Linked DNA regions of Homo sapiens. The protein of the gene in region 1 purifies or fractionates together with the protein of each later gene. This does not show direct contact. Each region holds a gene or a part of one and is shown in the gene's direction. Other genes may lie near its edges. The genes, in order: GXYLT1, MSLN, OMA1, SEMA6B, P4HTM, ADPGK and RIPK2.

What was found.
Region 2: the proteins of GXYLT1 (region 1) and MSLN purify together in Homo sapiens (affinity purification with mass spectrometry; one large-scale study listed by BioGRID and IntAct). This does not show direct contact.
Region 3: the proteins of GXYLT1 (region 1) and OMA1 purify together in Homo sapiens (affinity purification with mass spectrometry; 2 studies listed by BioGRID and IntAct, with this or other methods). This does not show direct contact.
Region 4: the proteins of GXYLT1 (region 1) and SEMA6B purify together in Homo sapiens (affinity purification with mass spectrometry; one large-scale study listed by BioGRID and IntAct). This does not show direct contact.
Region 5: the proteins of GXYLT1 (region 1) and P4HTM purify together in Homo sapiens (affinity purification with mass spectrometry; one large-scale study listed by BioGRID and IntAct). This does not show direct contact.
Region 6: the proteins of GXYLT1 (region 1) and ADPGK purify together in Homo sapiens (affinity purification with mass spectrometry; one large-scale study listed by BioGRID and IntAct). This does not show direct contact.
Region 7: the proteins of GXYLT1 (region 1) and RIPK2 purify together in Homo sapiens (co-immunoprecipitation; one large-scale study listed by IntAct). This does not show direct contact.

What each region holds. Positions count from the first base shown.
Region 1 is NC_000012.12:42,099,509-42,103,613, reverse strand, and holds part of GXYLT1 (glucoside xylosyltransferase 1), read left to right. Parts: intron 1-4,105. UniProt on the Homo sapiens protein: Glycosyltransferase which elongates the O-linked glucose attached to EGF-like repeats in the extracellular domain of Notch proteins by catalyzing the addition of xylose.
Region 2 is NC_000016.10:763,335-766,753, forward strand, and holds part of MSLN (mesothelin isoform 1 preproprotein), read left to right. Parts: intron 1-307; coding exon 308-357; intron 358-688; coding exon 689-809; intron 810-1,312; coding exon 1,313-1,392; intron 1,393-1,572; coding exon 1,573-1,702; intron 1,703-1,775; coding exon 1,776-1,969; intron 1,970-2,192; coding exon 2,193-2,283; intron 2,284-2,356; coding exon 2,357-2,456; intron 2,457-2,724; coding exon 2,725-2,903; intron 2,904-3,000; coding exon 3,001-3,156; intron 3,157-3,309; coding exon of another isoform or gene 3,310-3,333; coding exon 3,334-3,419. UniProt on the Homo sapiens protein: Membrane-anchored forms may play a role in cellular adhesion. Megakaryocyte-potentiating factor (MPF) potentiates megakaryocyte colony formation in vitro.
Region 3 is NC_000001.11:58,484,227-58,488,331, reverse strand, and holds part of OMA1 (metalloendopeptidase OMA1, mitochondrial precursor), read left to right. Parts: intron 1-4,105. UniProt on the Homo sapiens protein: Metalloprotease that is part of the quality control system in the inner membrane of mitochondria. Activated in response to various mitochondrial stress, leading to the proteolytic cleavage of target proteins, such as OPA1, UQCC3 and DELE1.
Region 4 is NC_000019.10:4,553,067-4,557,171, reverse strand, and holds part of SEMA6B (semaphorin-6B precursor), read left to right. Parts: coding exon 1-9; intron 10-158; coding exon 159-221; intron 222-1,082; coding exon 1,083-1,184; intron 1,185-1,607; coding exon 1,608-1,698; intron 1,699-2,076; coding exon 2,077-2,196; intron 2,197-2,695; coding exon 2,696-2,784; intron 2,785-4,105. UniProt on the Homo sapiens protein: Functions as a cell surface repellent for mossy fibers of developing neurons in the hippocampus where it plays a role in axon guidance.
Region 5 is NC_000003.12:48,988,556-48,993,249, forward strand, and holds the start of P4HTM (transmembrane prolyl 4-hydroxylase), read left to right. Parts: upstream 1-1,685; 5' UTR 1,686-1,701; coding exon 1,702-2,055; intron 2,056-2,277; coding exon 2,278-2,359; intron 2,360-4,694. UniProt on the Homo sapiens protein: Catalyzes the post-translational formation of 4-hydroxyproline in hypoxia-inducible factor (HIF) alpha proteins. Hydroxylates HIF1A at 'Pro-402' and 'Pro-564'.
Region 6 is NC_000015.10:72,773,516-72,777,620, reverse strand, and holds part of ADPGK (ADP-dependent glucokinase isoform 4 precursor), read left to right. Parts: intron 1-2,523; coding exon 2,524-2,749; intron 2,750-4,105. UniProt on the Homo sapiens protein: Catalyzes the phosphorylation of D-glucose to D-glucose 6-phosphate using ADP as the phosphate donor. GDP and CDP can replace ADP, but with reduced efficiency.
Region 7 is NC_000008.11:89,760,322-89,764,426, forward strand, and holds part of RIPK2 (receptor-interacting serine/threonine-protein kinase 2), read left to right. Parts: intron 1-2,507; coding exon 2,508-2,661; intron 2,662-4,105.

The sequences.
Region 1 (4,105 bases):
AAAATTTATTGATTGTTAATTCCTTTTCTCATATATTTTTATTTTTCTTGATCTTTATATCTATAGCAAAACATTGTCTTGGTTTTTCCTACCAGTTTTACAGTTTCTAGCACAGATCTTAAATTTTAGAAATTTAGCAATATAACTGAGTTACTTATAATCACTTTCCAAACTGTTTTATACAGATCCACGATTGTTGCTTCATGGTTCTTAACCCATGTACAGCCACAATAAAAATTTAGGACAAAGGTCATAGTTTATTTATTTGCCTTGCTGTCACCTGGTTCTTACTACTTGTGGCTGTTCATTTCGAACCTGGTGTATTATAGTTATGTATATTAAAAAGTTAAAATAGGTCCAGGTGTGGTGGCTCACGCCTGTAATTCCAAGACTTTGGGAGACCGAGGTGGGTGGATCACTTGAGGCCAGGAGTGTGAGACCAGTCTGACCAACACAGTGAAACCCCATCTCTACTAAAAATAGAAAAAATGAGCTGTGCATGGTGGTGCATGCCTGTATTCCCAGCTACTTGGGAGGCTGAGACAGAATTGCTTGAACCAGGGAGGCAGAGGTTGCAGTGAGCTGATATTGGGCCACTGCACTCCAGCCTGAGCTACAGAGTGACAATGTGAGTGAGACTCTGTCTCAAAAGAAAAAAAAAATTAAAAAATTTAAATTCAAATAATTTAATTTAATGAAATAATTATTAAATTAAATTAAATATTAAATACAACTTTTTAAAAATCATAATTTTTAATCTCATAATTGTATATTTGCTAGATAATGAATAACATTGGTTAAATGATTACGTTCTATTTTGCAGTATCGTATTTGCCGTGTTGAATCCCTATTAGGGTATTTATTTTCTCTCCTTCTAAAAAATGTATTACTGTATTTCTTAGCCTTTTCCTGTTTATTAGAGAAAAACCAAAGAGTATAAATTAGACATGGTGGGAATTTTTTCTTTGTTTACTCTGCCCTTTTCAGCTTTCTATATATTATTTTGTAGAGTATTTTTTTGTCTGTTTGCTCCACCTACTGAGGGCAGGATGTGTCTTTTATACAGCTTTATATTAAGAATATTTAGCACAGTGTCTGACATAAAGTAGCAACTTGATAGATAATTGCTAGCAAAGGAGAGTCAGATGAAGGTTTTAGAAACTAGGCCATTAATGAATTGAAAAATACTGGAAAAGGGAACACTTTGTATGAAGTAGATACAATGCTTTTACATATTTGTAAGATGTATGTGATAAAGAGTTTTCTTGTGTTAGTACATAGCTTATGAGAGCAGAATAACAACAACGAACATCTTGCCAAAGGGGTAGAACTTTTTAAAGTGAAGTAACTAATCTTTGGGAATTGATGAGTTCCCACTTTTTTGTTGGAGCATAATGTGAATGCGCTTTAATTTTATATGTATGTATAGGACAGGCTGATAATGACAGTCCATTCATTTTCAAAGCATGCTTAATTCAAAAAATGAAACTAATTGATCTTGATGTAACATACATGTATTTGGTCATAGGTTTGCTAAATTTTGTAAAATTAGAACTACAGTTTTCTGTTTTAAATGTTATGAAACTAAATTGTGCTTATAAAGATTCAAAAAAGTAATTTTATGTAGAATGAAAAGACAGGTCTCCCCTTGACATATCTCTTCACACTTTCATGCCTCCACCCAGAGTGACACTATAAACTTGGCTATGTGTTCTTTGGACCTTTTAAAAAGTGCATTTTGAGGCTGGGTGCAGTGGCTCATGCCTGTAATCCCAGCACTTTGGGAGGCCGAGGCAGGTGGATCACTTGAGGTCAGGAGTCCTAGACCAGCCTGGCTAATATGGTGAAACCCCATCTCTACTAAAAATACAAAAATTAGCCAGGCATGGTGGCAGGTGCCTGTAATTCCAGCTACTCGGGAGCCTGAGGCATGAGAATCACTTGAACCCAGAAGGTGGAGGTTGCAGTGAGCCAAGATTGCGCCACTGCACTCCAGCCTGGGCGACAGAGTGAGACTCTGTCTCAAAAAAAAAAAAAAGTATTTTGAAACAAGCATAGGTGTGCATTAGCATTTAGATATAGGATTCTTTTATACATCTTCAGCTTTTTTCATTTAGTAAATATATAGTTGACTGACTTCTATGTCATTACACATAATCACATTTTTAATGTGTGTATGATGTGGAGAATGGATGATTTTATTTTCTCTTTTTGTGTGTACCTAGTATGGATATGTAGTTGTATGGCTGAAAATATATTTTAAAATTCATATTTTCTTGACTATACTACCGGTGTGGTTAAAAATCTTTTCTTATAATTTGTAGCCATTTCTGTTTCTTCTTTTGTGAATGGCTGCTTGCCCATATCCTTTGCCCACTTCTTGGTTTTCTCTTTCTTATTGACTTGAACTCCTTTTATATGTAATACCTCTTTATTAAACTCATTTCTCATAGCTTTTCATTGGTTGTCTTGGATAATCTAGGTTATATCATTAGCAAATAATACTAGCGTTATCGCTTCTTTTCCAAATAGTTTTCTAATGGGACTTTTTTCTTTAAGGTTTTTTTCCCTTTTTATTTTTTTCCTAAGACTGCAGTGAACTCTTAATTTTGTATTTCATTGATGCTCTTTGAATAGGTACATTTCTTGTAAGATATATATTCAAATATATATATTTGATTTATATTGGTTTTTATAATTTAAATATGTATCTGTATTTCTGTGTATATTTGAATAGATAGAATCACATGAAGACTTTAACATGGTGTTGTACAAGGGCTCCACCAGTTCTGTCTGTTGAAAGTGTTCCTGGTTTTTGTCCTTGTGTAATTGATATTTTTCTTTTCAGATCCTAAGAATATTTCCTTAACATACTCAATGACTTATTTCTAAGAGTTATCTTTTCAAATTGTTTCCTTAAGTAAAACTTGTTTTAGTCATTTTCCAGATTAAAAAAAATTCTGATTATAATTACTATTTACTGTGTTCTAAGAAATTTCACACAAGGATAATAATGCAGTTGTAGCACATCAATTTAAGTATGTGGATTTTTTTTTTTTCATGAATTCTGGCCTTCTCTTTTTTAAAGGATAGATTGTTTATATCGTCACTGAATTTAATATAAATTATAAAATGACTTATAACAATGTTTCTCAAACTATGGCAAAAGATTAATTTTTAAAAAATTTTCAGTATGTTATGAGCCAATACTTTTGTAAAAGAGAGATTACTAGAGAAATATATTAAGTACACATAAAACTGTTAACTTGCTGTAAAAGTTTCTAAATCTTACTCTTAATTTCTATACTTAATTACTTAATCTTATTGAGGACATAGAAAAAATTTACATAGTAGCACACTATGTGAACTGCTGTGAACTGCACTATGAAGAATACTGGTTTTTACTCTGGATAGTCCCCGAGTCACATAGATCTAAAAGGCCCGGTATTCACTTCTACCCCTTCCAACACCAAGTTCTCATTGGACTCAGTTTCTTGCTCCCTTAAGTATTTAACTTTGGGTTTTCAAATAACAAGTTTTGAGCATTAAGAAAAAAGCATTACATTCAGTATCTGAAAAAGCACTAAATTCAGTATCTTTTTTATTTTAAAAAAGCATAAAATATAAATTGATAGATTATTAGTATTATATTTTTATCTCATTTCAAAAGGCAGCATTGTGCTTAATGGCTAAACAGTAGGAGCTTTCCAGTTAAAATGAAGATAAGGATATCTATTAATATTACCATAACTTTTTTTTATTTGAGACAGGGTCTCATTCTGTTACCCATGCCGGAGTGCAGTGGCACAATCTTGGCTCACTGCAAACCTCCACCTCCCAGGCTCAAGTGATCCTCCCACCTCAGCCTTCCAAGTAGCTGGGACCACAGGCGTGTACCACCATGCGTGACTAGTTTTTTGTACTTTTGGTACAGGGTTTCACCATGTTGCCCAGGCTTGTCTCGAGCTCCTGAACTCAACTGATCAGCCTGCCTCGGCCTCCCAAAGTGCCGGGATTACAGGCGTGAGTCGCTGTGCCTGACATCATAACTATTAAGTAATATTTAAATAGTGGTTCTCAGCATGGAGGAATAACAAGCCCCCAT
Region 2 (3,419 bases), on another chromosome or scaffold:
GCTGTGTTCTCTCTGTCACGTATCCACGGTGCTTGCCAGTTTCCACGGTCCTTGCTTGCAAAGGGGCACCTGGACCTGCATGTGACTGGCCTGGGAGCAGCCAGGTCCAGGGAGCGGCAGAGCTGAAATTGCAGCTGGGTCTGGGAAGTAGATGGATGAGAAGCAGCCAAGCCCATGGGTCTGAGACACAGCCAGGCCTGGGAAGTAGCTGAACTCGGGGAGTACCTGGCCCAGGGGTAGCGGGACCTGGGAACTCCTGCTCCAGAGAGCTGGTCTGAGCCATGTTCAGCAGGCCCTGTGTCCCCAGGAGGCTGCGCCCCTGGACGGAGTCCTGGCCAACCCACCTAACATTTCCAGGTGGGTCTGGGGTCCTCACAGTCCTCAAGGGTGAGGCTCGAGGGGCCCTCGGGACTGAGGGTGGGCAGGGCACCCCATCCCCCAGCATCCCCTCCCCCTTCCTCCTCTGCTCCACCTCAGATCTGACTGGGCTCAGGACTGCGGGAGGGACTGACACCCCTCAGGTGATGGCAACTCCCGGCCCTTGAGGGCGTCACCTGGTCTTGGGGGGAGGTCTGCAGGGAGCACCAGGGTCCTTTGGGGAGAGGTGGGGCTGTGGGGCTTGGGGAGCACTGGGTGGACATTGCAGGGGAGGGGCGATCGTGGGTGCCCAGCCCGACCCTTCCTGCAGCCTCTCCCCTCGCCAACTCCTTGGCTTCCCGTGTGCGGAGGTGTCCGGCCTGAGCACGGAGCGTGTCCGGGAGCTGGCTGTGGCCTTGGCACAGAAGAATGTCAAGCTCTCAACAGAGCAGGTCAGTCTCAGTTGGGCTGAGGCAGGTGGGCACAGCTGGGGCTGAGGAATTCACAGGCAGCTCTGCAGTGCCCACCTTGCCACCACGGTCCCCTCTGTCCCTGCTGCCATCTCTCCCCGGCCAGTTCTTCCCAGAGTTCCTCTGGCCACCCAAGCTGACCACTGGGGTGCCTGTCCACGTCAGGGGCTGGCTCCCCAGGAGCAAGTCTGATATGACGCTGTGTGCTGGGCCCCCTCCTGGAGCGCCGTGGGCAGCCCTCCAGGCTCTGCCCCAAGGGTGAATCTTTTTCGGGGGAGTGGGTGAGATCTGGGGAAGGGGAGCGGAGCCAGGCACGGGAGCCCCCATCCCCCAGGGCAGCGCTGCAGGCGGCCAGAGATCCACTTCCACAGATTCTCGTGGCCAGGGCAGGGGTGTGTTGTGGTGGGCAGACTGGCCAGGCGACCCTGGCCCACCATGTGAGTGGCGGCTCGAAACGCTCTGTGCTGGACTCCCTGCCCCTGCAGCTGCGCTGTCTGGCTCACCGGCTCTCTGAGCCCCCCGAGGACCTGGACGCCCTCCCATTGGACCTGCTGCTATTCCTCAAGTAGGCCCTGCCCCCTGAACCCACCCCCCCGGCTTTTGCCGCCAGCCCTCAGCCCCCAACCCCCTGCCCCTTGCCTCGGATCCCAGGCCACAGCAGAGATGTGGAGGCCGGCCGGGCTGCCTCTCAGGGTGGGGACGGGTGTGATCAGTGCGGCCTGTCCCCAGCACCCTCTCTTCACAGCCCAGATGCGTTCTCGGGGCCCCAGGCCTGCACCCGTTTCTTCTCCCGCATCACGAAGGCCAATGTGGACCTGCTCCCGAGGGGGGCTCCCGAGCGACAGCGGCTGCTGCCTGCGGCTCTGGCCTGCTGGGTAGGGGCTGGGGCCAGCGCGGGGCGGAGAGGGCTCGGCAGTTCCAAAAGCGCTGAGGCCAGCCTCTCTGCAGGGTGTGCGGGGGTCTCTGCTGAGCGAGGCTGATGTGCGGGCTCTGGGAGGCCTGGCTTGCGACCTGCCTGGGCGCTTTGTGGCCGAGTCGGCCGAAGTGCTGCTACCCCGGCTGGTGAGCTGCCCGGGACCCCTGGACCAGGACCAGCAGGAGGCAGCCAGGGCGGCTCTGCAGGGCGGGGGACCCCCCTACGGGTAAGTGAAGGTGTCTGGAACCTCGAAGGCTCACCTGGCGGCGTGGTATCAGCAGCGTGAGGACACTTGCGGCCATGCCTCAAGGCCCAGGGTCAGTCACCCCCGCCACCACCCCTGCCAATGCCCCCAGCGTCCCCTCCACAGCCAGGGGGTACGGCCTGGCCTCTTCCCTCTCTGGGGCTGCACGTGGGGGGTCCCTGAGCTGTGTCCCGTGTCTGCACAGCCCCCCGTCGACATGGTCTGTCTCCACGATGGACGCTCTGCGGGGCCTGCTGCCCGTGCTGGGCCAGCCCATCATCCGCAGCATCCCGCAGGTGAGACCCCAATCCCCAGCCCGTGGGGATGCCCGGCCACCCGAGGCTCAGCCCAGGTCCTGCTCGTCCTCAGGGCATCGTGGCCGCGTGGCGGCAACGCTCCTCTCGGGACCCATCCTGGCGGCAGCCTGAACGGACCATCCTCCGGCCGCGGTTCCGGCGGGAAGTGGAGAGTGAGTGCCGTGCCCTGCGCAGTCTGGCACCAGGCTGGGCAGCACCCCTGGGGGTGGGCATCACTTTAGGGTCTCACCTGCCCCTCCCTGGCTCTGCAGCACATCCCATTATAATCACAGAGAGTGGACAGAATCCCTGTTTGCCAGTGGGTAAACTGAGGCACAGGGAGGGTCACAAATGGCCCGAGGTCTCATCTCACAGGAGGTGTGGGAGGAAGAAGGGGTCAAACGAACTCCGGCCCTGACCCCTGACCCCTGTGCCCTGCAGAGACAGCCTGTCCTTCAGGCAAGAAGGCCCGCGAGATAGACGAGAGCCTCATCTTCTACAAGAAGTGGGAGCTGGAAGCCTGCGTGGATGCGGCCCTGCTGGCCACCCAGATGGACCGCGTGAACGCCATCCCCTTCACCTACGAGCAGCTGGACGTCCTAAAGCATAAACTGGATGAGGTAGTTCATGACTCAAGTTCCCACCGGCCTGCTGTGTCCAAGCCATCCCCAGCCCCTCTGGGAGTGACATGGGCCCTCCTGGTCTCTTGGCCTGCAGCTCTACCCACAAGGTTACCCCGAGTCTGTGATCCAGCACCTGGGCTACCTCTTCCTCAAGATGAGCCCTGAGGACATTCGCAAGTGGAATGTGACGTCCCTGGAGACCCTGAAGGCTTTGCTTGAAGTCAACAAAGGGCACGAAATGAGTCCTCAGGTGACCGTCCGGCTCGGGGGTCATGTGGCATGAGATTGGGAAGGGCTGAGGGGCAGAGTGGGGGACAAAGCCTGAGGTTGGGCGGGCCTGGGGTCAGGGGCACGGCCTGAGGTTATGCTGGTGGTGGAGGGATACATCTCTCCTTGCCACAAGGCTCCTCGGCGGCCCCTCCCACAGGTGGCCACCCTGATCGACCGCTTTGTGAAGGGAAGGGGCCAGCTAGACAAAGACACCCTAGACACCCTGACCGCCTTCTACCCTGG
Region 3 (4,105 bases), on another chromosome or scaffold:
ATAAATAAATAAAACAAAGTTATGGTTCCAATCATCAGAACATAGTATAGTAAAATTAATATAACAAAAATTAAAAGATGGATAACCACATGAAAATTAAAATTCCGCACATGTAAAGCAAAAGAGAAATCTATAAACAATAAGAGGATGGCTTGTAATCAATGAACTTTATAATGATGTAGTTATATTTTCATGAGTTTTTACTAAATCTGTATTTAAAGAAAACTTTATCAGTTTAAATGTCTATATTAGAAAAAGAGAAAAGAAATATAGAACTATAAATGTCTCAAATAGGGAAAATATAATTAATAAAATTAAGCAGAAATAAGCAAAATGACAGTAGTTGATTCTTTGGGAAATTTAGTCAAAGTCATAATCATTAGATTAGTTAGACAAAGTAAAATGTAAATAGGATCAGGAGAAGAGGTACGGTAACATGCAAGAAAACTGAAATATTTGGGAGAATGTTATTTTTAGTTAGATAATGTTAATTAATAGCTCAGGTCAAAATCAGAAGTAATTAAAGTATATGTGTGTTGAGGGGGGAGGGGAATTGCTAGAGTGGATGCAGCTAGGAGTAGAAATTATAGCTAGAATGAAGCTTCTCAAATTACTAATTTACAAATTACAAATTACTAAATTACTTTAGAAAGAAGTAAGGTATAAATAAATCAAATTTAAAAAACTATTAGAACCCATAGAGTCATAATAAATTAGCAAAGAAAAGGACGCCTAGCCCTGATGGGATTTAATTTGGAGAATTTTTTCAGAAGTTCAGAGAACAATTGCCTAGTTACTAATTAGTTCTACCTTCAAAATGTAGAAAGGTATGTTATTAAGTTTCTGATTCATTTTACAAGCATAAATGATTTTGTTTTGACAATTTGATAAAAACAATAACTTTAAAAGAATTTATGGACTGGGGTCATTAATTGACAATACGATATTATATTACAGTAATTATTTACTGTGAGCAAGTTAATTATCCTCAAATGCATGAGCAGCATCATAAAAGAAAAGCTATTAAAACAGAAGAGGAAATTTAGGACTCATCTTCAGTTCCTCTTTCCTTCACTTCTGTGTCCTATTCATGAAAAAATCTTGACTGCTTTAACAAGTACATTAAGAATCTGTGGGCTTCTCAACTTCGCCACTGCTCCTTTCCTAGTAAAAGTCACCATCATCTCCTCCCAAGTTACCGCAGTCATTTCCTGTTGTCACTTTTCACCTCACGATGTCACGTTTCACCTCAACTCCTAACAACCTATTTTCAATATGTAGCCAGAGTGATCATTGTAATGTCCTTTCCTTGGTTAAAACCCTCTAGTGGCTTCTCATCTAACTTAGAATAAAAATCCAGACTCTTCCTATGTCTTCCAGGCACGTAATTTGGCCACTGCCTAGCTCTCCAACTTCACCACATGCCCCTTTCCTTAGGCTTTCCTTGGTTTAGGAAACATACAAGACCAGGGTATGTCCCCCATTAAGCTAGTGTCCTCCTTACAGCTCTTCTACTTGCTGATTTCTCTGTCTGAAACATTCTTCCCTCAGTTCTTTAGGCAAATGTCACTGTCCTGGGGAGGCTTTCTTTGATCCCATAATCTTAAATCGCTTCCCTTCCATGTACTCATTGTCCGTCCAACACACCTCACTCTTTAGTTTCTTCATGTACTTAACTAAAATTACCTTATTTGTTTATTGGCTTTTACCCTAGTGTGTAAGGCCTTTGTACACTGCTGTATCCATAGTACCTATGAGAAGTTGAGATGATTAGTGAATATTAGTTAAATGATTGCATGATGTGTAATAATAGGCAGGATAAGCAATATAATAGTGGGTGAAAAATAGAAAAATTGGCAGTAGAATTGAACAGTCCTTCCACTCCCTTATAGAAATTTAGCATGTAGGACATTAATAGTTGGTAACGGGAGAAAGATGGTCGCAGGAAATAGTAATATAAAGATAACAGTGGTCTTAGGAGTCTTCGGTTTTAATTCTGACTCAGCCATGTAACTTGGAGAAAGTTACCTAATCCAACCTTTAGTTTTCTTCATATGTGAAATCAGGATAGCAATATCTCCTAGATGTTGGATGTACATACTTGTGCATTTCTGTAGGTAAGGTCCTGCTGTCTTCTTTGCCTTGTCCCCCTCTCTTTGGCATAGACATTTTAATGATAAGTATTTTATGTCAGGCCCAAGATTTCAAAAGTGGTTCAAATTCCAATGTCAATTTAGATGTGTAAAATACCTCACGCAGTGAAAGGCACATAGAAAGTGAACAGTAGATGTTAGTTTCTTTCACTCATAGTTGTAGTCTTTAGGCTGGCTAATTCTATATTTAACTTCAAATCTTCCTCAGGATTCTCAGAACCATATATTCTTGCTATTAAAATACATTCCTGCTTTTTCTTAAACCATAAACTCCTAAGAGTATTTTCTCTATGACATTTATCATAATGATTTATTCATAGCTGGTGTTCTATAAATGTTTGTTTAAAATTTAGCATGCGTTTGTTAAGTGCCTGTTATGTGCAGTGCGTGGAGTTAAACACAGAAAACAAAGTAAAGGAAGTGGAAAGACATATTCTAGCTATATGGTAGGAAAATTTTGCTCACTTTTGAAGAGATGAAGATATATTTAATAAGATAGATTAGAATTTATAAAAATAAAAAGACATTGGCGCCCTGAAATATATAAAATGAATATGGAAAGGAAAGGAAAAAAGAAAAAATAAGTTACCAAGACATCCAATAGAATCTTACTATGCAAAGTAGATGAAGATTTGATAGAAATATGTATGGTCATAACAGGATTCTGCTTGATAGATATTTGGGGAGGAGAAACAGTTCACACATGAAGAAGTAGTGATAGAAAACCTGTATGAAGAACATATAGTGTTTCTAGCAATTAAAGAAACCTAGCTCAGACATCTCCAAAGTACATTTATTCAGTAAAAAATTTACTCAAGAAATATCATGTGATACAAAAAAGCATGAGCACAAAAAGCATGTAGAGCAAAAGCGGTAGAAACAAAACAGGTTCTAAACCCAGCTTTTTTACTTCCAGGCCAGCTTTTTTTTTTTTTTTTTTTTTTTTTTTTAGTAGTAGACTCTTTTATTTTTAGACTCTAAAGCTTCAACTTTTAATTGAGTAGAAGGTATAGAGATTTCCCTTATACATCTGTCCCCGCATACTCACAGCCTCCCATACCATCAAAATCCCATGCCAGAGTGATAATATTAGTTACAATTGATGAACCTATGTTGACCCATCATTATCACCCAAAGTCCATTAGGGTTTACTCTTGGTGCTGTACATTCAGTGCATTTTGACAAATGTATAATGACATGTATCCACCATTATAGCATCATGCAGAGTAGTTTCACTGCCATAAAAATACACTCTGTGCCTACTCATTCCTCCCTCCCCCTAGCCCCTGGCAACCACTGATCTTTTTACTGTCTCCATAGTTGTGCCTTTTCCAGAATATCATATAGTTGGAATCATGTAGCCTTTTCAGATTGGCTTTTTTCTCTTAGCAATATACGTTTAAGGTTCCTCATATCTTTTCATGGCTTGATAGCTAATTTCTTCTTAGATCTGAATAATATTCTTTTGTCTGGATATCCCACAGTTTATCCATTCACCTATCGAAGGAAATCTTGGTTATTTCCAAGTTTTAGCAAATAAAGCTGTTAAAAACATTTACCAAGCCAGCTTTTTGTTCCTTGCCCGGCATTTAACTTCTCTGAGACTCAGTTTCCTCATCTGTAAAATTGAGCTGATATTTTCTAAGGATTCTGAGGTTTGAAATTATGTAATTATCTATATAAAAGTCATGAAATGTTATGTGAATAACTGTGAATAACTCAAGTATGCCTGTATTACTGGTGACATTAAAGGTTGATAAAGCCTTTCTGGTAGAAAGCAGTTTGGTCCTATATAACAAAAAGTATAATCTACCTGTGCTTACTCTTTGATCAGATCATTCTATTTTGGGTGTTAGACTTCACATATCTCCAAATGGAGGTGAGAAAAGATTTTTTTAAAGAAAAGTTTTTATAGCAGGGTAATTTATAAAAGCCAAATAGACACAACTGTG
Region 4 (4,105 bases), on another chromosome or scaffold:
TACCAGAGGGTGAGGAAGGGGTGCAGGTGGGAGTGGAGGGGTAGGGCCAGGGGGACGCGGCACTGCGCCGGGGAGCTGGGTGGATTCGGCCCAGCACGGCGGGGTCACTCAGGGCTGCTGGGACCCGTTACCCCCTCACCAGCTCTCTCTGTCTGCAGAAGCTGACCTGGAGATCTAACCCCAGCGACATAAACGTGTGTCGGATGAAGGGCAAACAGGAGGTGAGTTGGCCCTGGCTCGGTCCCGGCCCCTGCGAATCAGCCCTGGCATTACCCATGCCCCGCCCCAATCAGACCAGGCCACGCCCACCCCGCCAGCCCTGGCCACGCCCCAACCCACCCCCAATCAGCCCTGGCCCCGCCCAACTGCCAGCCCTGGCCACACCCCCAAACAGCCATGGCCACGTCCACGTCCCCACCCAATTGGTCCTAGCCCGGCCTCCAGCCTAGCCACAATTATCCATAACCACGCCCCAAATAGTTCTGGCTATGCCCACACTTCTGCCCCTGTCAGTCCTACCACCACCCCCAGCCTCGTTCCAACAAGCCCAGGCCATGTTCACACGCCACCCAATAGCTCACTCCCCACCCAATCGATCAGGTCCCCATCCCGACCCCTCCCCTATCAGTCCTGCCGCCCCCCACGCCCCCGGCCCGCCCCAATAAGCCCAGGCCACGCCCACCCCACCAGCTCTGGCCACGCTCCCAACTTGGCCCCAATCAGCTATAACCGTGCCCACCACGCCCCAGTTAGTTCTGGTCACGACCATGCCCCACCCCAATCGGCCGTGACCACACCCAGGGCGGATCCTTCTCCTCCATCCCAGGTTAGGACTCTGCTATTGCCATGGTTATGCCCACAGTCTGACAATGCCCACCATCCTGGCCTTGCCTGCGTTGCTGATACAAAGTGTTTCCCTGTCTGGGTCGCACCGTGTCCCCAGCCAGTCCTAGGTTCAGCCCCTGCCTTGGCCATGCCCACAACAGACCGGCCCTCCACCCACACAACTCAGGTTCTGGCCACGCCCATCACCATGACCACGCCCACATCGCGCTCCCCGCTTCCTCCTGTCCCCACCTCAGGGCGAGTGTCGAAACTTCGTAAAGGTGCTGCTCCTTCGGGACGAGTCCACGCTCTTTGTGTGCGGTTCCAACGCCTTCAACCCGGTGTGCGCCAACTACAGCGTGAGTCTTCAGACTCCCTGCGCCCCAGGTCCAACCTCCAGGCCTCTGCTCGCCCGACCTCCGCTGGCCATGGCTTTTCCCCAGGCCGTGTCACCTCCTCCAGGAAGCCTTCCTGGATATACTCTCCCTGCCTCCTCCCCCTGAGCTCAAGAGGAGTCAGCGCTGTCCAAACGAGGCCTGTACAGGGGGCCGGGGAAGCCGTAGCTACTTAGGTAATGAGCCAGTTACAGGTCTAACTAGGCATTGACTCTTAAACCCATTTACAGATCAGTAAACTGAGGCCCTGAGAGGTTAAGTGAGTGGCCAAGGTCACACAGTAATCCGTGGTGGATCAGGATTCCCCCTGGAGTGGGGGGCTGAGGGAGCCAGGGGCTGCTAGGTGGGGTCAGGAGATCTGTCACTCAGGCCCCATGGTCCCTGCAGATAGACACCCTGCAGCCCGTCGGAGACAACATCAGCGGTATGGCCCGCTGCCCGTACGACCCCAAGCACGCCAATGTTGCCCTCTTCTCTGGTAAGTACCCCCCCAACCTCCATCTGATCAGCCCCAGCCACAGGCAAGACCTGGCATTTTCTACTCCAGCGTCTGGGTTGTTTAGAAGGCAGCTGGACGACCACTTGTCCCAGCTGTGACATGGGCAGACTCTCAGCCCAGGTTTGGGGCTCAGCTGGGATTGAGGCTCAGCGGGATTTGGGGCTTAGCCGGGGTCAGGGGCTCAGTTAAGGTCAGGGCTTGGATGGAGGTGGGGCTTGGATGGGATCAGGGCTCAGCCTGGAGACAGGGGCTCCCCTAGGCTCAGGACTCAGTCTCAGAAAATCGAGTTTCGACCCACCCAGCCCCTGGCCTCTGCGGTCTCATCTCTTGCCTGCCTTCCCCACCCACCCCATCCAGACGGGATGCTCTTCACAGCTACTGTTACCGACTTCCTAGCCATTGATGCTGTCATCTACCGCAGCCTCGGGGACAGGCCCACCCTGCGCACCGTGAAACATGACTCCAAGTGGTTCAAAGGTGAGACCAGGAAGGGCAGTGGGCCCAGACCTGGCAGGGCCCAGAACCTGACATTCATCAAATCTCCCCACCAGAATAAGAGTCCCAGAGGAGCTTGGTGGAGAGATTTCCACCACATCTTTGGAATCTGTTGGCCTTTTTGAAGACTAGAAAGCTAGAGGAACAAGTTTAGTTGGATCTAAAGTAGAACCCGCTGGAAGTGGGTGGCTTAGAAGCCCAAAATGGAACCACAGAAAAGATATAGCAGGACTCAGCTCTTCAACACATGAGGGAGGAAGATAACAAAAAATAGTTGATGTTGCCATTTGCAGCAAGAGACACAGCGATTTTAGGCTTCTGACCTCCCTTCCCCTGCAAAATACCAAACTTTGAGTCTGTTTCATATTGTCTGGGTAACCAGCCTATGTCCCCCCTTCACCATAAAAGCCAGTGAGTTCTTAGCCCCAGAAACCCCCTTTGTCATGTCAGGGGCTGAGTTCTGACCCCTCCTGTCCTGCAGAGCCTTACTTTGTCCATGCGGTGGAGTGGGGCAGCCATGTCTACTTCTTCTTCCGGGAGATTGCGATGGAGTTTAACTACCTGGAGAAGGTGAGGCCGGTGCAGTGGGGCATGAAGTTGAGAGGCTCTGATCATGCGAAGTGAGGGGGCAGAGGTGGATCCATGAATCCCTGCATGGGGTGAGAGGGTCCTGCCCTCCATTTCTGGTCCCCAGGGCCTCCTTTCCAGCCATGATCAGGCCCTGAGGCTGAAGACATCTACGGAGCAGCCGTGGAGCACTCAGCCCTGACGAGGGACTTGAGTTGGAAGTCAGATACACCTGGTGCTGTTGCTGTTCACCTGTCCACCCACCCACCCAGCCACAATCACTTATCCATCCTTCATCCCCTGTCCATCCGTCTACCTGCTCACCCTCCCACTTACCCATCTGTCTGTTCTTCAGCCCACCCACACTTTCATGAGCCCATTAATCCATCTACTCATCTGCCCACCCACTCACTCATCCACCCACTACCATCCATCCGTGCACTCATCCATCTGTCCATGCATCCATCCACCCATCGATTCATCTAGCCACCCTTCCATCCTATCCATCTATCAGTCCATCCACCTATCCATCCATCTATCCATCATCTGTCCATCCATCTGCCAATCCATTCACCCATCCATTCATCCATCCATCCATCCCATCCACCCATCCATCCATTTATCTACCCATCCACCAACACACCCACCCACCCACCCACCCATCCATCCATCCATCCATCCACACATCCATCCATCCATCCAGCTGCCAATCCATCCACCCATCCATTCATCCATCTACCTATCCACCCACCCATCCATCCATCCTTCATCTATCCATCCATCTGCCAATCCATCCACCCTTCCATCTCATCTATCCATCCATCTCATTCACCCACTCATCATCTATGCACCCACCCATCTATCCATCCATTTATCTGCCCATCCACCCACACACCCATCCATCCATCCATCCATCCATCCATCCATCCATCCATCCATCCACTCACCCATCCAACCATCCACCCATCCAACTCACCTATCCATCCATCCATCCATCCATCCATCCATCCACTCACCCATCCAACCATCTACCCACCCAACTCACCCATCCATCCATCCATCCATCCATCCACCCACTTATCCATCCATTCATTCATCCACTTATTCACCTATCCATGCATCCATCCATCCACTCACCTAGCTTTCTCTCTATCCATCTGTTCATCCATCCACCCACACATCCATCTACTTATCTACCAATTGCTTGATTACCTTGTTCTCCTTCACCATCTCTTCCATTATCTATCATCCTTCTTCAGATGTATTTATTTATCCATCCACCTACTCATCCCTCCATTGTAATCGTCCGTCCATCTACTCATCC
Region 5 (4,694 bases), on another chromosome or scaffold:
TGGTTCTGTTGGTTGGTTTATTATATTTAAGAATTTAGGAGATTTGGTCTGGGTGTGGTGCCTTATGTCTGTAATTCCAGCACTTTGGGAGGCCAAGGTGGGTGGAACACCTGAGGTCACGAGTTTGAGACCAGCCTGGCCAACATGGTGAAACCCTGTCTCTACTAAAAATATAAAAATTAGCCGGGCATTGTGGCGGGCACCTGTAGTCCCAGCTACTTGGGAGGCTGAGACAGGAGAATTGCTTGAACCCGGGAGGCGGAGCTTTCGGTGAGCTGAGATCACACCACTGTACTCCAGCCTGGCGACAGAGCGAGACTCTGTATCAAAAAAAAAAAAAAAATTATAATTAAAAAATTAAAACTAAATAATAATAAATAAAAATACAAAAAAAAAAATTGGCCCGCCATGGTGGCGCATGCCAGCTACTTGGTAGGCTGAGGCAGGAGAATTGCTTGAACCCGGAAGGCAGAGGTTGCAGTGAGCCAAGATCGCGCCACTGCACTCCAGCCTGGGCGACAGAGTGAGACTCCGTCACACACACACAAAAAATCTTAGAAGAAAGAGGTGGGCCTGCCCTTGGAGCCCCTGGCCTGCCTTGACTTGAGGGGACTAGAAAATGCAGACTATGCTTTGCTATGGGGAAGGGAGAGGAGATGGGAGTAGAGGTAGTGGGGGTCTTAACCAGGGTAGGGAGAAACCACCAGTGTGACCTGCCTTAAAAGTGTTGCTCTTGCCTGCAAGTCCACCTCGGGGAGGGGGGTCAGCTTCTGCCCTGAGGGCGTGTAGTAATCTCTTCCTGAGGATAACCAGCTCTAGAAGAGCAGGGATGCCTTGGCACTTGACCACTGGTAGGTATGTCCTCCCCCCACCCCCGTTTTTGGTGATAATCTGTTTAATTTTTCTCTGAGGTAATGGTGTCTCAGTTATGGAAGAGTCCCTTCCCGCCTCTTCACACGTGCCAGCTTTGATGCAAGGAGTGTTCCATATACCTGAGCACTGGTTCATTCCTGCGGGCTGCCATGGGGGGCTCACTTTCCTGATGCCAGGGCTCCTCCAGGATGCCCCCTCTGACGGCCTATGAAACCTTGCACATCAGGCAGCTTCTTCCTAAGGCCTGCCTGACTCCGGCGAGACTTCCCGGGAGATCCGGACCGACCGCGGAACCGAGCTCCAAGAATGCCTGCGAGGAGGCTGTGGGTCCTACCCTATCGCCGCTTACGCAGTCCCAGCCTCCGCGGCGCCCCCAAATGCCGCACTGTTGAGTCATCTCAGCGCTGCCTCCTCCGCGCTGCGCTCCCCACCCCCGCTCCTGGAGCAAGAAGATGCAGACGATACTTTTCCCGGAGGCAAGAGGGCGTCTTCACGCAGGCACCGAGAAGCTCCCACTAGTGTATGCCTTAATGGTGCCGCTCTTGTCCGCGTCTACGCTTGGGACCTTGGCTTCTGACTTGGAGAGTGTACAGCTCTGCCCGACGGCAACCCAGCTTGGGAAGAGAAGCCCCAGCGTGGGCTGGGGCTCAAGGCGCAGGAAGGCCGAGCCCGGCGCGGACGCAGGCGGCTCCGGGCGGGCTCAGCACCCCCAGGCACCGTCTCCTAGTGACCGCGGCGCTCGCGGGCCTGGCGGCCGTTGTCCGGGCGACTGCGCAGCGCGGGCACCCCCGCGGCCCCTCCCCTGGGCGCGCGCGCGACCTGGGTGCCATGGCGGCAGCGGCGGTGACAGGCCAGCGGCCTGAGACCGCGGCGGCCGAGGAGGCCTCGAGGCCGCAGTGGGCGCCGCCAGACCACTGCCAGGCTCAGGCGGCGGCCGGGCTGGGCGACGGCGAGGACGCACCGGTGCGTCCGCTGTGCAAGCCCCGCGGCATCTGCTCGCGCGCCTACTTCCTGGTGCTGATGGTGTTCGTGCACCTGTACCTGGGTAACGTGCTGGCGCTGCTGCTCTTCGTGCACTACAGCAACGGCGACGAAAGCAGCGATCCCGGGCCCCAACACCGTGCCCAGGGCCCCGGGCCCGAGCCCACCTTAGGTCCCCTCACCCGGCTGGAGGGCATCAAGGTGAGGACCTCCCTGCCCCGCCGCGCTCCAGGCCCTGCACGGCTGAGCCCGAGAGGACCGGCGCTCAGCCCGGGTCCCCACGCTGCCCCCGGCGCTGCTCTGCGTCGGTCCCGCGCGCTCCCACTCACTCGCCTGCTGTCGCTCTCCGGGCCGGGGCGACTTGGCCCTTCTTGGGCAGCGCGGTCTGGCGCCCCAGCTGCCCGCTGTGCGCCTTTTCCTTAGGTGGGGCACGAGCGTAAGGTCCAGCTGGTCACCGACAGGGATCACTTCATCCGAACCCTCAGCCTCAAGCCGCTGCTCTTCGGTAAGTCCGCCAGATACTCCTGGGAAGGGCCAGGGGCTGCGGTTTGGTGGCCACCTTGAGGCTCGTTGTGACCACGTGACCTCTATTTTGAAAATGGCTGCTTCAGAGCAGCCCTTCCAGAGGATTACCAAAGTGAAGGACCTTCCCCGTCCTCGAAATAGGGTAACACTCCCTCTTATCCCAACTCCCTGCAGTCCATTCTTCCATCACAGGGCTGGCAGGGTGAGCCTGAGGCTGGTGTCTAAACGTTTCATTGCACCTGTCTTCCGTGCCACCATTAATTCTGTCACCTTCTAGAACTGGGAGGAAGGTGGGAGACTGATAACCAGCTTTCTGCCGACCTCAGGACCTCTGGGGAAAATCCCACTGCCGAAGTGGGCCTTGTGGTCTGATGAGAAGCAGGCCGTCCAAATGTAGATAAACTGGTACCCCCCCAGCCTCCTCCACTGGAGTACCAGTCAGAGGCTCAGCTTTTGCTGCCAGCACTCTGAGATTCTTCTTAAGGTGAAGTCTTTGTTCAGCCATCATGGGCAAAGCTTTCTAGGGTGACTCCAGTTGGAGCCACAACATAGCTCATCGTTTCTGAGCTCTAGTTATGTGCTTGCCTTCATATGATTATTTCATTTAATTCCTGCAACCCCTCTGTGAAGTGGGTGTAGATCCTACTCAGGCCAGTGAGGGGGAAAGTTAGGGACAGAGAGCTGCTGTGGCTTGGCCAGGCTGACACGGTTACTTCAGTGGTGAAGCTAGGATTAGAACCCACATAGCCTGCCTCTAAGGCCTATGCAGTAAAGCCACAGTGCGAGCTGTGAAGACCCCAGAGTCCTTCAAAGACCACCAGTGTCAACTGGGTGGGGACCCCTAGTCCCATGGACATTGTCCAGGGTGTTTGTGTAGCCCAGCCCTGGGTACCTGGCCTCCGTGACAAACATATTTGCAAACCCAGGGCCATTCCTGCCTGCCGGGGGATGGAATGGGTTAGGAGCTGGGGCCAAAGTAGAACATCTGAGCACAAGTCATTACCTCCAAGGCAGAGGGTCCTGGTTGGGGATTATGCCTAGACCTGTCAGAATGATGTCATATGCATGCTGTTTGTAGGGAAATAGATTATGCTGTCAGTCCTGTTGTGGGAGAGGCACCCAAAGCTGGTTGTTGTTATTATTACTATTACTATTGAGTAACGTTGAAGTCTGTGCCAGGCACTATTTTAGGTGCCAGGAACACAGCATTGAACTAAATATAAACAATGAAACAAAACCCTGAAGCTGACATTCAAATGAAGAGGAAACAGACAATAAACAAACAAATAAATATATACATTGGTGTGTCAGATGGTGATATGTGATTGCAAACAAGTAAGGCAGATTTTTTTTCTTTTTTCTTTTTTGCCAACATAAAATAGCAGACAGGGCCGGGCGTGGTGGCTCATGTCTATAATCCCAGCACTTTGGGAGGCTGAGGCAGGCAGATCACTTCAGGTCAGGAATTTGAGGCCAGCCTGACCAACATGGTGAAATCTCATCTCTACTAAAAATACAAAAATTAGCCGGGTGTGGTGGTGTACACCTGTAATCCCAGCTGTTCAAGAGGCTGAGGCATGAGAATTACTTGAACCCAGGAGGCAGAGGTTGCAGTGAGCCAAGATCGCACCACTGCATTCCAGCCTGGGCAACAGAGAGAGACCCCTATCTCAAAGAAAAAAAAAAATAGCAGACAGTAAGGCAGAAGTTCAGCTGGGATTAGAACTCTTTTTTTTTTTTTTTTTTTTTAGACTAAGTTTCTCTCTTGTTGTCCAGGCTGGAATGCAATGGTATGATCTCAGCTCACTGCAACCTCCGCCTTCCGGGTTCAAGTGATTCTCCTGCCTCAGCCTCCCAAGTAGCTGGGATTACAGGCATGCGCCACCACATCCGGCTAATTTTTTGCATTTTTAGTAGAGACGGGCTTTCACCGTGTTAGCCAGGATGGTCTCAATCTCATGACCTCAGGTGATCTGCCCTCCTCAGCCTCCCAAAGTGCTGGGATTACAGGTGTGAACCACCATGCCTGGCTGGAACCCTTAATAAGGTAGCCAAGGTGGACCTGCCTGAAAAAAATATTTGAGCAAGGCTGGGCGCGGTGGCTCACGCCTGTAATCCCAGAACTTTGGGAGGTCGAGGCGGGTGGATCACCTGAGGTCAGGTTGTTCGGGACCAGCCTGACCAACATGGGGGAACCCCGTCTACTAAAAATACAACATTAGCAGGGCGTTGTGGCACATGCCTGTAATCCCAGCTACTTGGGAGGCTGAGGCAGGAGAATCGCTTGAACCCAGGAGGCAGGGGTTGTGGTGAGC
Region 6 (4,105 bases), on another chromosome or scaffold:
CTGCAACCTCCACCTCCCGGGTTCAAGCGATTCTCCTGCCTCAGCCTCCCAAGTAGCTGGGATTACAGGTGTCCACCACCACACCCAGCTAATTTTTGTGTTTTCATTAGAGATGGAGTTTCACCATCTTGGCCAGGCTGGTCTCAAACTCCTGACCTCATGATCCACCTGCCTCGGTCTCCCAAAGTGCTGGGATTACAGGCTTGAGGGTGTTTATAGTTTTTGAAGTAGTTATTTTCAAAGACAGGTTTCCCTCCATTTCTGAACCTTTACTCTTCAGACTCGGGACCCAAATCCATTTGGATACAATTTTTTTAGACTGGGCTGTCTGGAGGAAATGGTATCCCTCCTTACTCAAGCCCTCACTGTCTGAAACTTAGGAACCTACTGGCGTCTGAGAGCTACAGATACTTGTATTCCTGTTGATTCTACCAATCTAATGTTGCATTCATTAGAAATAAAGGGCACCATGTCTGAGGTAAAATTGAGACCAGTTTGCAAGGTGTGTTTGGTTTCTTAACATTGAAGGTTGTGAAAGGAAAGATTTTAAACATATCTTTAAGCAACTGCCACGTGCATGTCCAGAATGGCCCCTTCTGTGTGTGTCATGGAGAAGTTCTGGCTTATATTTTCAGTGTTTCTTTACTAGAAATCATCCCTCTTTTAAAGAGAAGGGCCAAATACAGTAGCTAGATGTTTTATGCACTGAAAGGCATAGTAAATCTTAGGTTATGCTTCTCCAGTTGACCAGAGTCATTATGTGTGTCTTGAACAAGAAACTGAGTATTTAAATGCTATTTGATAGGCAAAACTCCTTTCAAAACATGAATCCCTAGGGGAAGAATTAATAAAAAGGACCCTTATAATGAGGATGCAGTCTCTTTGTGTCTTGAGGGAGGATGTCTCTTCCTTGCCCTTGTAAATCTTCCTTAAGTGATGTAAATAATATCTAGTCTGCATACAAACCTTTTTAAAGTTATGTCATTTTAAAAATTCTAAAAGGAATACAAGCATGTTAAAAGTAGAAATATACCTGGTAAAATTCCTCTTCATCCCAGTCTCATTCCTCTTCATTTTTGAAAGAGACTAAAAGGGAAATACAACTATGTATTTTACACCAAAATCTCATCCATTGGGACATTTTTATTAATGAGTTTACCTTGTGGTTTCAGAGCTGCTCAGAATTAACTCTGAAGCCCAGTCACCCGTATCACTAGGGGTGGTCTCAGTTTGCCGGCTGGGAGCTGCCTGTGTGGTAATCCAACCTCACTGGCCAGAATGACATCCCAATAGGCAGAGGCAGGAATAAAGATGACCATGATAGGGGTAGGGGCGGGAAGACCTCATCTAGCTACCTTAATTATTTGAACGTTCTCTTTAAAAGAGGGATGACTTAGCAAAGAAACCCTGAAAATGTAAGACAGACTTTCTCCATACACACATAGGAGAGGTCATGCCAGACAACCTTAGTACAAGTTGAGCATCCAGAATGCTCTGAAATCCAAAACTCTGGGGCACTGACATGATGCCACTGATGTATATTAAGTACTTATATGTGAAAATTCCACCCACACGTAAGGAATAGAAACTTTATTTCATGCACAAAAGTATTTAAAACATTGTATAAAGTTACCTTCAGGCTGTATGTATAAAGTATATATGAAATGTGTTTGGACTTGGGTTGCATTCCCAAGATATCTCATGTATATGTAAATATTCCAAAATCGGAAACACTCTGATCTCAAGCACTTCAGATAAGGGATTCAACCTGTACTTTATAATTTCCATCGAGACAACCAGGAGTGGCAGGTCTTTAACGTTCATGGGTCAGTCCTGTGAACACTGGCCAAAGGGTGAGTTCTTAAAATGCTGCAGGTGTGCCTAAGTCTGTAAAACACCACTAAATTCTAAGAGGCAGGGTTTCAGCTGGGAGTACTCAGGCATTTAGGAATTTATTGTATCTTACCATCCTCATTTGTTTTTAGAGGGAAGATGCCTGATACCTAGCCTTTGACTGAAACACATATTTTGCTTACTCTGCGCCAATTGCTGTTCCTAAGTATACATTCACTTATTTAATCTTAACCATAGCTCTATGAGTTAAATGCTCATATTATTGCCATTTTGTGGATGAGGAAACCGAGGCACAGAGAAATTAGTGACTTGCCCAAGTCACACGGCCAGCATGAATCCTGTTTGGCTCTGCCAGCGTTTTTCTCAGAAATGTTACATTTTTGTTACAGTAGCTTTGTTCTGAAATGCTAAGCACCTATCTTCTCACTTTGTAACTAGTGTAAAAGTTTGCCAAATTATTGAAGAGTCCTGTGTTCTGATGCTAATACATAAATCCAGTTAAAGTAATTTTTCTCCTGCCATGTGCTGTTTACTTCCCAATTCAGGTTTCAGACCTACTTCCTGTTTTTTCTGTTGAATAAGGTTCTGAGAAACATTTTCCTTTTGTTAAATGCAAAATGGCTACTTGGTGCTTCTGCTGCTTTCACACAGTTTTTTTCCTCCTTCTAGAGTCAATGCATGTGTTGATGTGGTGCTCTCAGGGGTGAAGCTCTTGCAGGCACTTGGCCTTAGTCCTGGGAATGGGAAAGATCACAGCATTCTGCATTCAAGGAATGATCTGGAAGAAGCCTTCATTCACTTCATGGGGAAGGGAGCAGCTGCTGAGCGCTTCTTCAGTGATAAGGAAACTTTTCACGACATTGCCCAGGTTGCATCAGAGTTCCCAGGAGCCCAGGTCTGTTTGGTTCAGCAATAGTAAATTAAGGGTGGAAAAAGATGCCTTTTTAATATGGTTCCTAGAAGCAAGCAAGCAACTTTTCATTCCAGTTTGAAGAGGAGGGGAGCAAAATCACCCCTGGTTGAAAACTGTGGGTCTAGGTTGATGGTTCTCAGACTTGAGCATGTGTCAGAATCATTTGGAGAGGCTGTTGAAACACAGATTTCTGGGCCTACTACCAGAGTTCAGATTCAGTAGATGTGGGATGGGACCCAAGAATTTACCTTTCCAGCAAGTTTCCTGGTTGATCCTGTAGGTCTGAGAACCTCCTTTTGAGAACCACTGGTCTGCAAGGTAGAACCTGTCGAAGTTAGAACCTTAGTGGTTTCCAAGTTCACCTGGTGATTATATACAAAGCCCTGCATGGTCCAGGCACTTCCTGGAGGTTCACGTGGAATAAGAGGCAGTGCTGGGGCTGGAGACCCAACCATGGCTCTTCCTACCTCACCCCAGTATGCCTGCTCCTACATGTACCCTCATGCCTCTTGAGGCTGAGTTTTGGTTGGTTGGTTATCTCCCATGTCTTGCCCCCACCCCATTCTTCCTCCTCATTTAAACCTCCCTTTGGCTGGGCACCCAGTCTGGTTTGGTAGTTCTAGCCAGGGAAGCTCTTAATGCCATTTTTAATTGGCACCTTTCACAGGCAAACCTTTGTGACTACTTTTATTTTGATGACTTAAGATTTTAGGCCGGGCACAGTGGCTCACGCCTGTAATCCCAGCACTTTGGGAGGCTGAGGCAGGTGGATTGCTTGAGCCCAGGAGTTTGAGACCAGCCTGGGCAACATGGTGAAACCCTGTCTCTACAAAAAATACAAAAAATTAGCTGGGCATGGTGGCATGTGCCTGTGGGAGGATCACCTGAGCCCGGGAGGTCAAGGCTGCAGTGAACCATGACCGTGCCACTTCACTCCAGTCTGGGCAACAGGGTGTGACCCTGTCTCAAAAAAATTTTAAAAATAAGTTTTTTGTCTTCGAAGCTGCCTATTTGAACATTAGAAATGGACATAGGCATTACCTAGCTGAGTTTCTAAAGGTGACAGCAAGTTAAGATTTCAGTTATCATTTTGACAACTGGGATCAGTAGTGAGATTCTTATCTCTTATGAGAGAATCTCGATAGTTCTAACATGATGAGTTCACTGCTCAAAAGTCTTTATGATTACGGAATTTAAACCACCAGTTTGATTTCTCTTCTCTCTTGATTCTGCCTTTATTTCTTGATGAAAAAAATTTTTACAGCAACTTGATCTAGCTTTGTGATGGTCCAGGTTATTTCTTAACATTGTAAAACCCCTTTCACTAGAGGAGTGCCT
Region 7 (4,105 bases), on another chromosome or scaffold:
CCCAACAATCTTCCCACCCCTTATGAGTAATGAGTCCAATTGGTTGTTCAAATACCCTGTAGATGACATAACTTTTCTGATTAAATTTTTGAGTTAATTTTGGTGATGTGACTATGGAAGCTGTACTTTACACCTTTATTTTCAAAATGTAAAAATCAATTTTTAAAATCTTTTGGCTTTAAAAAAAATTTCCCACTCACTCAATCTTGCCAAAAATCTACCTTCAAGAACTTTCCTACTATATTCTTTGATCAAGCAATAGGGTAGAAAGAATGCAGGCTTTAATGTCCCATGATTGCAATTCAAATCTGACGCCAACCCTGCCACTTATTAGTGTGACCATTAGAAAAGTATTAATTTTTCTGAGCCTTAGTGCCCTCATTTATAAAGTGGAGCTAATGAAACTATGTTTAGAGGGTGATCTTAAGATGCTAGTGCATATAAAGTGACTGACATGTAATAGGGTCACAGTGGAAAGAAGAATGCCTCTTAATGGGAGGAGGAAAGAGTGTGTGAAGTGTCACTGAGACTTCTGCAGCATGCACTCTCTATTGTTCTTAGTATCCAGGAATCTTCAGGGTCATCCTCTATTGTTGGCCTAAATCTCTTGGGGCAGATATGGAACTATTTCCATCTAGGGAATAAACATTTAATTAAAATGGGTCTCACAAACTGATACTGGTTTCCTAGCAGTTGGAGTATTAAGTGATTGAAGGACAGAGAATGAGAGAAGCTTTTCACTTTATGCCTTCTTGTTACTCTTGAATTTTAAGACATATAAATATATGACCTATTCAAAAAATAAATGACGAAGATTCTTTTGCTTTGTTTTTTTGTTTGTTTTTAAAAGTAGTCCTCTTAGTCTGGTCTAGAATGTCTGTTGCTATTCATATTTCAACAGCCATTCATTCAGAGCTTGGGAGGTGTAAGAACTAACTTATCATCATTACTTACCTAATAGGCTTCTCCTGGAAACATTTCTATTTCTGTCATTGCTGCAGCCAACATCCAGTCACTCAGGGTAAAAAAATAATGACATCTCCAATTCCTTTTCATTTTTTTTTTAACCCCCTACAGTCAGTCACTACAACGCGGGCATTCTATTCACTTAGTGTTTTTCTTTCCATTTCCACTGCTACCTTTGTAGTTTTAGGTTCATGTATTAACTGGTATTAAAATCTCCTAACACCTGACTTTCAAACTCTACCACTTTCTACTAATCCTACATCTTGTTGCCAAATTGATCATCTTAAAATTGTATTCTACTGTCATTCCCCAACTCAAAAACTTTCAGTCACACCAGGTACATTGGCACACCCCTGTAGTCCCAGCTACTCAAGAGGCAGAGTAGGGAGGGCCAGTCTGGGCGACATAGCAAGATCTGGTCTGTTAAAAAAAAAAAAAGTTTCCAGTGTGTATTCTGTATGTTAAAAAAAGCAAACAAACCGTCAATCACTTAGTGACTGCTAAGTGAAGTTTCACCACCCTAACCAGGCTTTAAGACTGAGATATGTCCCTAACCTGTCTTATTCACCTTCACTCCTTTTATATTACATAAAAGGAGTGCATTAAACAATTCACAATTTCCCAACTTTAGCCTTCCCTTTAATTTCCTTGAAATCATTTGATACCTACCTATTGGACGTCTGATACAATTGAGCCCAGGAGTTTGAGGCCACCCTGAATAACATAGTGAGACCTTGTCTCTACAAAAAAAAAATAGGCACGGTTGCATGCCTGTGGAGCTAGCTGGCTGCTGGGGAGGCTAAGGTGGGAGGATGGCTTGAATCCAGGAGTTTGAGGCTATAGTGAGCTGTGATCACACCACTGCACTCTAGCCAGGGTGACAAAGAAAAATAGAAAAAAAAATAGTTAAATATATATTTGTTTTACATATGAATAAACAAATGAACCTGGGAGCCAGTTACCCCAGCAGTCTATTAATATTATTGAGCATTTACCTGTTCTCAGTGATCTTTTCCTGAGTTCTGGTATATAATTTATAAATATTACTGACTTTTATGCAGCTATTGAATCTATAACATTTAAAGGTTTTAATATTCAGGATATTTGGAAAATGTTTATATGGTATGCAACCATAAAATTTAATATAATATTCTAATAAAACATGCTCATTTGAATACAATGTAAACTTAATCATGTAATTAGTTCAAGCACCAATTGTTCTAACATAGATAGACTTTATAAATTTAATACTATGTTCTTTCCCATTCCTGGGATAAGTACAATAATAATAAACCTGTGTTTAGCACTTTTACCTGTCAATGGCTTATAGAAGTTAGTTTGGTCTCTAAACAGACCTGTGGAATATATAGGGTAGGTATTATTTCTATTTTAAATATGATGAAACTAAGGTGCAGAGAAGTTGCATAATTTACATGAGGTCACATAGCTAATTAATGAAAAAAAATCCAGGCTTAGTCTTATAGGCATGATAATTGTATATTTTTTTATTACTTGAATAATTATGCATTTTTTTTTCTTAGTGAAAGAAAGGATGTCTTAAGAGAAGCTGAAATTTTACACAAAGCTAGATTTAGTTACATTCTTCCAATTTTGGGAATTTGCAATGAGCCTGAATTTTTGGGAATAGTTACTGAATACATGCCAAATGGATCATTAAATGAACTCCTACATAGGGTAAGTATTACACAGTTTTAGTGGCCATAATTGCCATTTTTACTATTCAAACTATATTTTACTTTGATTTTATATTTGGTCAGATTATTTAGGGGTATATAGATGAATCAAAGAATAATGAAAAACTATCACAGGGATAAAATTTTACCTTTTGTGACATTTTTGTGTTGATTAAAACACTGTGGATTCAGGCCCTGTACTCTAGATTATTTTGCCTGGGTTACCATTCCTAACATTTATACCAAATTATAGTATTTACATGCATATTACATGGGTAGAAATGGAAGAGATAAACTCTGCATACTGTAAAATCCACTGTTAAGTGATATTTTATTTTATATTAATAGCAATTTCAAATTCAAATTTAATGTTATTAATACCAGTTCATAAAGTTCTGAATTAGCAGGCCAAATATTAATAAATTATCTCTGAATACCAGATACATTAGCTTTTCTAATAATAGACAGTGGTATCAGCCATTTACCCTTTTTCCCAAGGTACCAGTCACTCTCTCTTTGATTATGAATCCCTTGAGTAAACAAATTCAGGGGTCCTCATTCTCAAAATACATGTATTCATTATTAATATTATCATGAGTCTGTAGTTTCAGTAGATCTTTTTAAACTACTTGGTCCATTTTTTGAGGGTTGGCTTAATTAAAACTGTATTAATCTACAAAATCCAATCAATAGATACTCATAAATGATAGTGTAACACAATGCCCTGTAAGTGGCCAAGGGAAAGTGGGTGCCACTGTCAGTCAGTCATAGAGTAACTTCCTCTCAGTTTCAGAATACATCACATTCTATTCATGACTTGTGACCATTTGAAACAAGGATGGAATAAGTAACTGGTGTCAGTCTGTAAGATTTGTATAACTACCACAGAGCCAAGATACAAATATTAATAAATCACAATTTCTCTTTTATTTTTGTTGAGAAATGAGTATAAGTAGAAATCTAACATTTTCTTCCCACACCCCAGCAGATACTCTGGCACCCAAATTTGCAGCTCGCTGGAAATTCTACAGCCTCCTCAAGGGGGATTGCTAACTCCTGGAAAAAAAATCATAAAATATACAGTGAGCACTTCTCTCCCTTGTCTCCATGATCACAAGCCCCCATATTATATTATGCTGCAGAGAGGCCTGGTAACTGCTTTAAACTGCATAATTTTCAGAAAAAGTTACCTTTTTTACAGATTAAAAGATTAAGTTTCTCTAGGGGACAGGCCTCTGTGTATGCCAGAGAAAGTAATGTTCCACGTCAGCTTTTTGTGTTTCTTTTGGTTTCCTGTATTGCATTATTTAGGGTGGGATTTATCTTGAAGTGCCCTCCCCCAACCTCACAAAATTCATTGAGAAAACTCAAGATGTATCATAAACAGTCTAAAATATTTTGAACCACTCCCCCTGCCAGATTGATCACTGAACTATAAGCTGACG